2 linked regions of the Homo sapiens genome follow. The protein of the gene in region 1 purifies or fractionates together with the protein of each later gene. This does not show direct contact. Each region holds a gene or a part of one and is shown on either strand. Other genes may lie near its edges.

Region 1 (3,500 bases):
AGTAAAAATCACATTTCCTAGTTGTCTGTGTCAGACAACTTTACTAGTATACTATAGTATTATTAACTACCTTAATTTTTGTTGACATTAAATTTTACTTGAAGATGATAAAAAAGTAGCAGCAATGACAGGGATAGCTAATACTAGAAATACAATAAAGCTCTGCGATAATGCACCTGAGACAAATGTAAATTTTGGTGAAATGTGACTGACGACTGCTTTCTGTCTTCTGGCCACTCTTATATTCTTAAACAGATACACTAAAATTATCTTGTGGAGGAAAGAAAAGGAACAAATGGCAACCCCATCTGGAAAACCAGGAAGTTAGGATGAGTACCTGAGTTTCCAGTATTTCCCTGCTCAATCTCCCTGGACTTGATGTTACAGGCACCACTAATCCCCAGATTTTTGGAATAGCTGCTGTTTTCCAGAAGTTCCAAGACCCAGAGTTGTCTCTATGAATTTTTAAGTGGGAAGAAACTACCACAGCCAGGCAGTGCCGTCCACACAGGGATATTCTAAGTGGCCCAGCAGGACTCAACTCTTACTGGCAACAGGCACTGATCTGCCATGGTCACTTCATCAAGTCCACAATAATGCAACTCTGAATTTTACACGATGGAATTTTTTGGACACTACCTATAATTTTATGGTATGGTTTTACTGTACCATTACTCCCAGTTCAAGACTGCACATCCACACTTATTATTGGGTATCTCCACATTTCTCTTGTTCTGGTCTTTGTCCAACACTCTATTCTCTTCTGAATGAAAGAAACTTTGGATTTAGTTTTCAAGATTTAGAAAACCCATTCTTTTTCAAAGATAGCATGACCATTATATAATACAACCGATACTTTGTAGAACACATCTATAAACTTGCACAGGAACAACAAAAGTATAATACTTATATAAGATCAGAAATGTCCATGTGTTCCTATGCTATATGGTATCATTTTTTTCAGTCACTTTTAAAATGAATTCACTGAACTGTATCATGATATCCCCATTATTAGGTTTTTAATCTAGCAGCCCAACTTACCCGGACAAGTGCATCATCTATGATATGGTCACGTCTAACTTTGAGTCTCAAATATGGATTCAACTGCTGTCCTTGAACTAAGCTGTAGAGAACAGTGATTCTTCGTTCACTGTACATGCGAATTCTATTGTCATAATATAATCCCAAATTCTTTGTGACAGCATTCAATATAAAGGGACATGTCATAAAAGAGAATTTGTTCTCTGTTTCTACTTTGAAAAAAGTATAATCTTTATCCATTTCTAGAACCTCATTCAGTGGTTCATTAATAAACTCTTCAAAAGGGATAAGTGGTTTTCGACAATCCAGGGTTTTAACACCAAGTTCAGTTTCCAGGGGGTCCACTCGAGGACCTTTCTTGTTTCTTCTTTCTTCTCCCAAAAGTTCCTGAAGTGTCAGCTCGCTGGACTCAGGGATGGGCTCTTCATCATCTTCTTCATTGTGATTTGTGTCCACTTCCCCTCCCACTACATTTGCATAGTAAACCATTTTCAAGCACTTCGAAGCAGCAACAATGGCATCATCATCATTCACTAGATTTCGACTGTTAAATTCATTGCTTATGACTTTATAAGTAATAAGTTGCTGAAATGTCTCCATCATTCTCCGAATCTGGTCTGCATTGTATTTAGACCACAGTCTGATCAGTTTTCCTTGGGCTGCAAGGGGTAGCTTGCTCATCGCTTTGCAAAATAATGGCAAAGCCATTTCCAGATATTCAGGACTGTGGAGATTTCTATTCTCCATTACGATAATGAACAAATTCAGATAATTAGGATCTCGAGAGTATACATTGTGATACGTCAAGTCACATTCCACGTTAGGTGACAAATATACAAGTGCATTGAGAAAGGCAGTTTCAATTTTTTCATTAGAGAGCAATCTGGTGTAGACCCTTCTAATGGCATCAATATCCACAGACACATCATCAGGGCCTAATTTTTGCAAATTGTTGTCTCCCTGTGAGCTATCACCTATCCTTGAGGAAGATGCTTCTGAGTCTTCTTCCATAGCAGCAGCAGAACATGCAGCTTTTTCCTTTTCATCTTCATCTTTGTCTTCATCTTTTGCTTGAAGAGATTTCAGTTCTTCCTTGGTGTGTTGTTTAACTTTCCGGAAGCTCTGTACCAATGCCTCAGCACTAGAAAAAACTCTTCCAATAACACGGATTAAAGGGGAATAATCCTCTCTTTCTCTACATAATTCAAGAATTTCATATACCTTCTCTTCTGTTAAGTAAGTCACATCTAGAAAATCAGAGGAAAAAAGAGAACATTTATTTTCATAATATGTATGTTTACTCTGTTGCAAAAAGTTCTAAAAGTAAAACAGCCAAACATTCTAGGCTCAATATCATTTATGATATACAACTCTTAAAGTATCTAATACTTAGATTCAGCAAACAAAATTTAATGCTTACCTATTTTTTTCAATGAACTACCTACCTATACCAATGACCTCACCCATGCTTTTACATTCTTTCAACAATGTATAACTCTTAATAAGATCATGAGTTTAAACTTTCTTTATAATCAAGATATCTATTAATGTATAGCTTTAATTATAAATATGAACCAATATGTCATGTACTGATTAATCATAATACAGCTCTTAAAACCTCACTGTAGAACACACAGAAATACTACTAATCTGTGAGTTTTCTTGTTTCAGTACTCTGTTCTCCAAAGACTAAGAAGGCAAGGTCTTAAAAAAAGGCTCCTTCAGCATCTATGTATGTATTAAAATCAAACTGGTTCATTTTGGGTCTTCCTAGTTTGTTCCAGGGTAGTCATTCTGTGAGTGATTGAGAAGAATATACCATTTCTCATCGGCTCTTAAGTAGAAACTGCTTTCCACAGCCAGGAATCAGGTTAGACTAAATCTCATAGAGTGACAGAAAATAGTTTTTGAGCAATGAAAACAAACAGTGCAAAGAAGTAAACTTATGAGCTGGCAAGCAGTGCAGAGACTATGTAGTCATCAAAATCTATTTCCTCTTTTCCTGGGCACAGAGTTGGACCACATTTCCCAACTTTTTGAGATAAGTGTTATTTTCAGGCCAAGGCTTTCTCCCTTCTGGCTAATAGGATGAAAGATATTTCATTTCACAGGTAAAAACAAATGATATATTTTGTGTACTGACCAACATAATACTGAGAATAGTCTTAATTCTCCCTTTTATCAATAAAGTGACATACTTGTCATCATCAGATTAACTACTTGAGAGGTTAATTTTAGAGGCACACAGACAATCCTACCTCCATTGCGCCAAATATACCCTTATACATGTAGTGTACAACATGTAGAATTTTTAATGACTCCCACCTCTGCTATAATATATGTTTCACAATGAAAGACAATATAAAATGTAAGTGATCATTGAATGGTCTCCAAAAATTGAAGCACAAAAATACCAAATTTTATCATACTAAGGATCTGATCTGTGGCCCAGCTACAAG
Region 2 (3,006 bases), on another chromosome or scaffold:
CTCTAATTTCAGTTTACATGGTCTAAGATAAAAATGGTTCTGCAATACCTGAGTATGCCACTCATGGGAATAACAGAAGGCAGCCTAAAGATCATGCTGGAGTGGGGCTGGAGAGGATAAAAGGTTTGGGATTACAATTTCCCATGTGTTGTTTTTACAGAAGTTCCCTTCAAAGACCAGAGCTACAACTACTGCCATTTGCTGGTTGGAAAGAAAACCATTCATATGATAACTGATGCTTATATCAGGAAGTGGTGGTTTCTTAAGTTTTAATTAAAATCACCACAGTTGAACCCTGAAATTTGTATTCTAAACCAAATCTCCATGGATTCTCATGCAGCCAGTTCATACACTGGAGAACTGTTATAAGGCTATGACAGATAAGAGGTATTATTTTTCTCCATCACTAAAAATAAGGCAATTTAATTAGGCAAATGACCAGTTGTAATCCCAGACTACTATATAGAGTTGAAGCTACTTAAAAAAACAAAAACCCAATATACCAGGCGGTGAAACAATTTTATTTCACAGTTGTCTTTAAAACCACAAAGACACCTATGTTCTTCATATAAAAACATTAGTATAGATACCCATACTTTCTAGAAAATGATTATACAGACCCTTTCAAAGAAAAATGTATTCCATTATATAGGTTTCAGTGAGGTTGCTTGGAAAAAACTCACATCTGGACTGATTCCTAAAACATAGCATTCCACCACTCTGCAACTTTTGGTTCAAAGTATAGATTATTGTCATCAGTATGTGGTGCCTGTATTCTTACATATTTGATAATACATATATAGACTGGCTTATCACTTAATGTTCCATTGGTTCATCAGCCTTTTCTGCAGGTTCATCAGCAGGTTGAGCAGGCTTAACAGGGAAAGAAAAAAAGAAAATATGTAAAATGAACACTTGATCAATATACACATCTAATCACAAATATTACGTTATTAAAAATTGAGAAAAAGGGGTAAAGAGATATTCTGAATACTCAGTTTTAGTTCACTGTCCTGTTAACATTTCTGAGCAGTATTTTTTTTCTCCTTGAGTGCTCATGATTTGAGGGAATAAAGATTTTTTATTTAAAAAAAATACAGTTGGCTCGAACAACAAAGGTTTAAACAGTGAGGGTCCACTTATATGCAGATTTCTTTTTCTTTTTCTTTTTCTTTTTTGTTTGCTTTTACTCTAACATTGTTTAGGGTGAAGCTTTTTTTTGTTTGTTTGTTTTCCAATAAATATAAACTAGCAGACCAACTGTGTAGCCTAGAAATATAAAAAAAAAGAGTAAGAAAAAGTTAGGTATGCCGAATGCATAAAATATATGTAGAAAATAGTCTATTTGGTCGGGTGCAGCAGTTCACACCTGTAATCCCAACACTCTGGGAGGCTGAGGCATGAGGATTGCTTAAGCCCAGGAGTTTGAAACTGGCCTGGGCAACACAGTGAGATCCCATCTCTACTAAAAAGAAAAAAAATGTGCTGGGCATGGTGGCACACACCTGTAGTTTCAGCTACTTGGTGGCGCGGGGGAAGGTAGGAGAATCGCTTGAGCCCAGGAGTTCAACCTTGCAGTGAGCTATGATGGCACCACTGCACGCCAGCCTGGACAAGAGGGCAAGACCTTGTCTCAAAAAACAACAAAAAAGAAACTAGTCTATTTATGTGTTAATTGTCAGTTTATGTTATCAGTAAGGCTTCCAGTCAACAGCAGGCTATCAGAAGATTTTTAGGAGTCAAAAGTTATATGTGGATTTTCAACCATGCTGGGGTTTGGCACCACTAAACCCCACACTGTTCGAGGATAACTGTATATATAATTTCACATTTCTGAAAACCTAAATATCATTGAACAATTCCACCATTTTATCGTACTTTGCATTGCTCAGGAATAAAAGCTTTCCTTGTATTATCACTACTATGTTTAAAATACAATCAGCACTTTTTAGACATTCTTTTCCCCTTTGCCAAACTAGTTTGTGGTATTCCACAGCATTCTTCCCAACAGTGCTAGTTTTTACCAAAAACAGTTTAAATATTGCAAATCTTGATCCCCCAAATAGTACCAACAATATCCTTTCCAAGTTAAAAAAACTCATGCTGTAGAAATTTCCATACTAGATTCTTTTTTACTTTCAATTACACTGCTATCAAATAAGCATCTATAAATAGCAAATGTATATTCTAAACATCTAGCAAAAAGACCCATATTTCACCTGAGATTCACTTCTTGATGCTTTTCTCTTTATGAAGAGCCATCTTAGTGTCCAAAGCTGGCCCCCAATGAGCATTTCTCCCAGTCTCTGCTCAAACAGAATCTGGGCCAGGCCAGTGACTCACTTTAACCAACAGAATGTGTACAAGTGATGTTGTGCCAGTCCTGCATCTCAGCCTTAAGAATGCCTGGCGGCTTTCACTTCTGACTTTTGCAAGCCCTGAGTTGCCAATATGCTAGAGAGACCCTGCTGAAGAAGCGGCCCTGAAACTACGTGGACAGAGGCTCAGTCATCCTAGCAGAGGTCTCTGCCTTCTAGATGCTCCTCTAAGACACCTAAAAGGTGTGAGTAAAGAAGACATGTGACTGAAGTTATCTTGGGTGTTCCAGTTGCACCCCACAAATGACTGCAATGTTTGAGAGATCCCAGGTGAGACCAGCAAAGAACCATGTAGGTGAGCCCCAGTCAGCCGCAAAATTGTGAGAAGTAGTGTTTGTTGTTCTAGCCCCTAAGTTTTGGGGTAGCTTATTACCTAGCAATAGATAACCAAATAATCAACACTTCTCCCTTTTTGTGTTTGTTTTTTTTTTTTGAGACAGAGTCTCTCTCTGTCGCCCAGGCTGGAGGGCAGTGGTAGGATCTCAGCTCACTGCAACCTCCGCCTCCCGGGTTCAAGCGATTCTCCTGCCTCACCTCCTGAGTAGCTGGGACTACAGGTGCATGCCATGACGCCCAGCTAATTTTTGTATTTTTAGTAGAGACGGGGTTTCACCATGTTGGCCAGGAT

What was found. The genes of interacting proteins can lie anywhere in the genome.
Region 2: the proteins of UBE3A (region 1) and PSMA1 purify together in Homo sapiens (affinity purification with mass spectrometry; 4 studies listed by BioGRID, with this or other methods). This does not show direct contact.

Annotation. Positions count from the first base shown.
Region 1 is NC_000015.10:25,369,525-25,373,024, forward strand, and holds part of UBE3A (ubiquitin-protein ligase E3A), read right to left. Parts: intron 2,289-3,500; coding exon 1,042-2,288; intron 1-1,041. UniProt on the Homo sapiens protein: E3 ubiquitin-protein ligase which accepts ubiquitin from an E2 ubiquitin-conjugating enzyme in the form of a thioester and transfers it to its substrates.
Region 2 is NC_000011.10:14,504,376-14,507,381, forward strand, and holds the end of PSMA1 (proteasome subunit alpha type-1), read right to left. Parts: intron 874-3,006; coding exon 817-873; 3' UTR 501-816; downstream 1-500. UniProt on the Homo sapiens protein: Component of the 20S core proteasome complex involved in the proteolytic degradation of most intracellular proteins. This complex plays numerous essential roles within the cell by associating with different regulatory particles.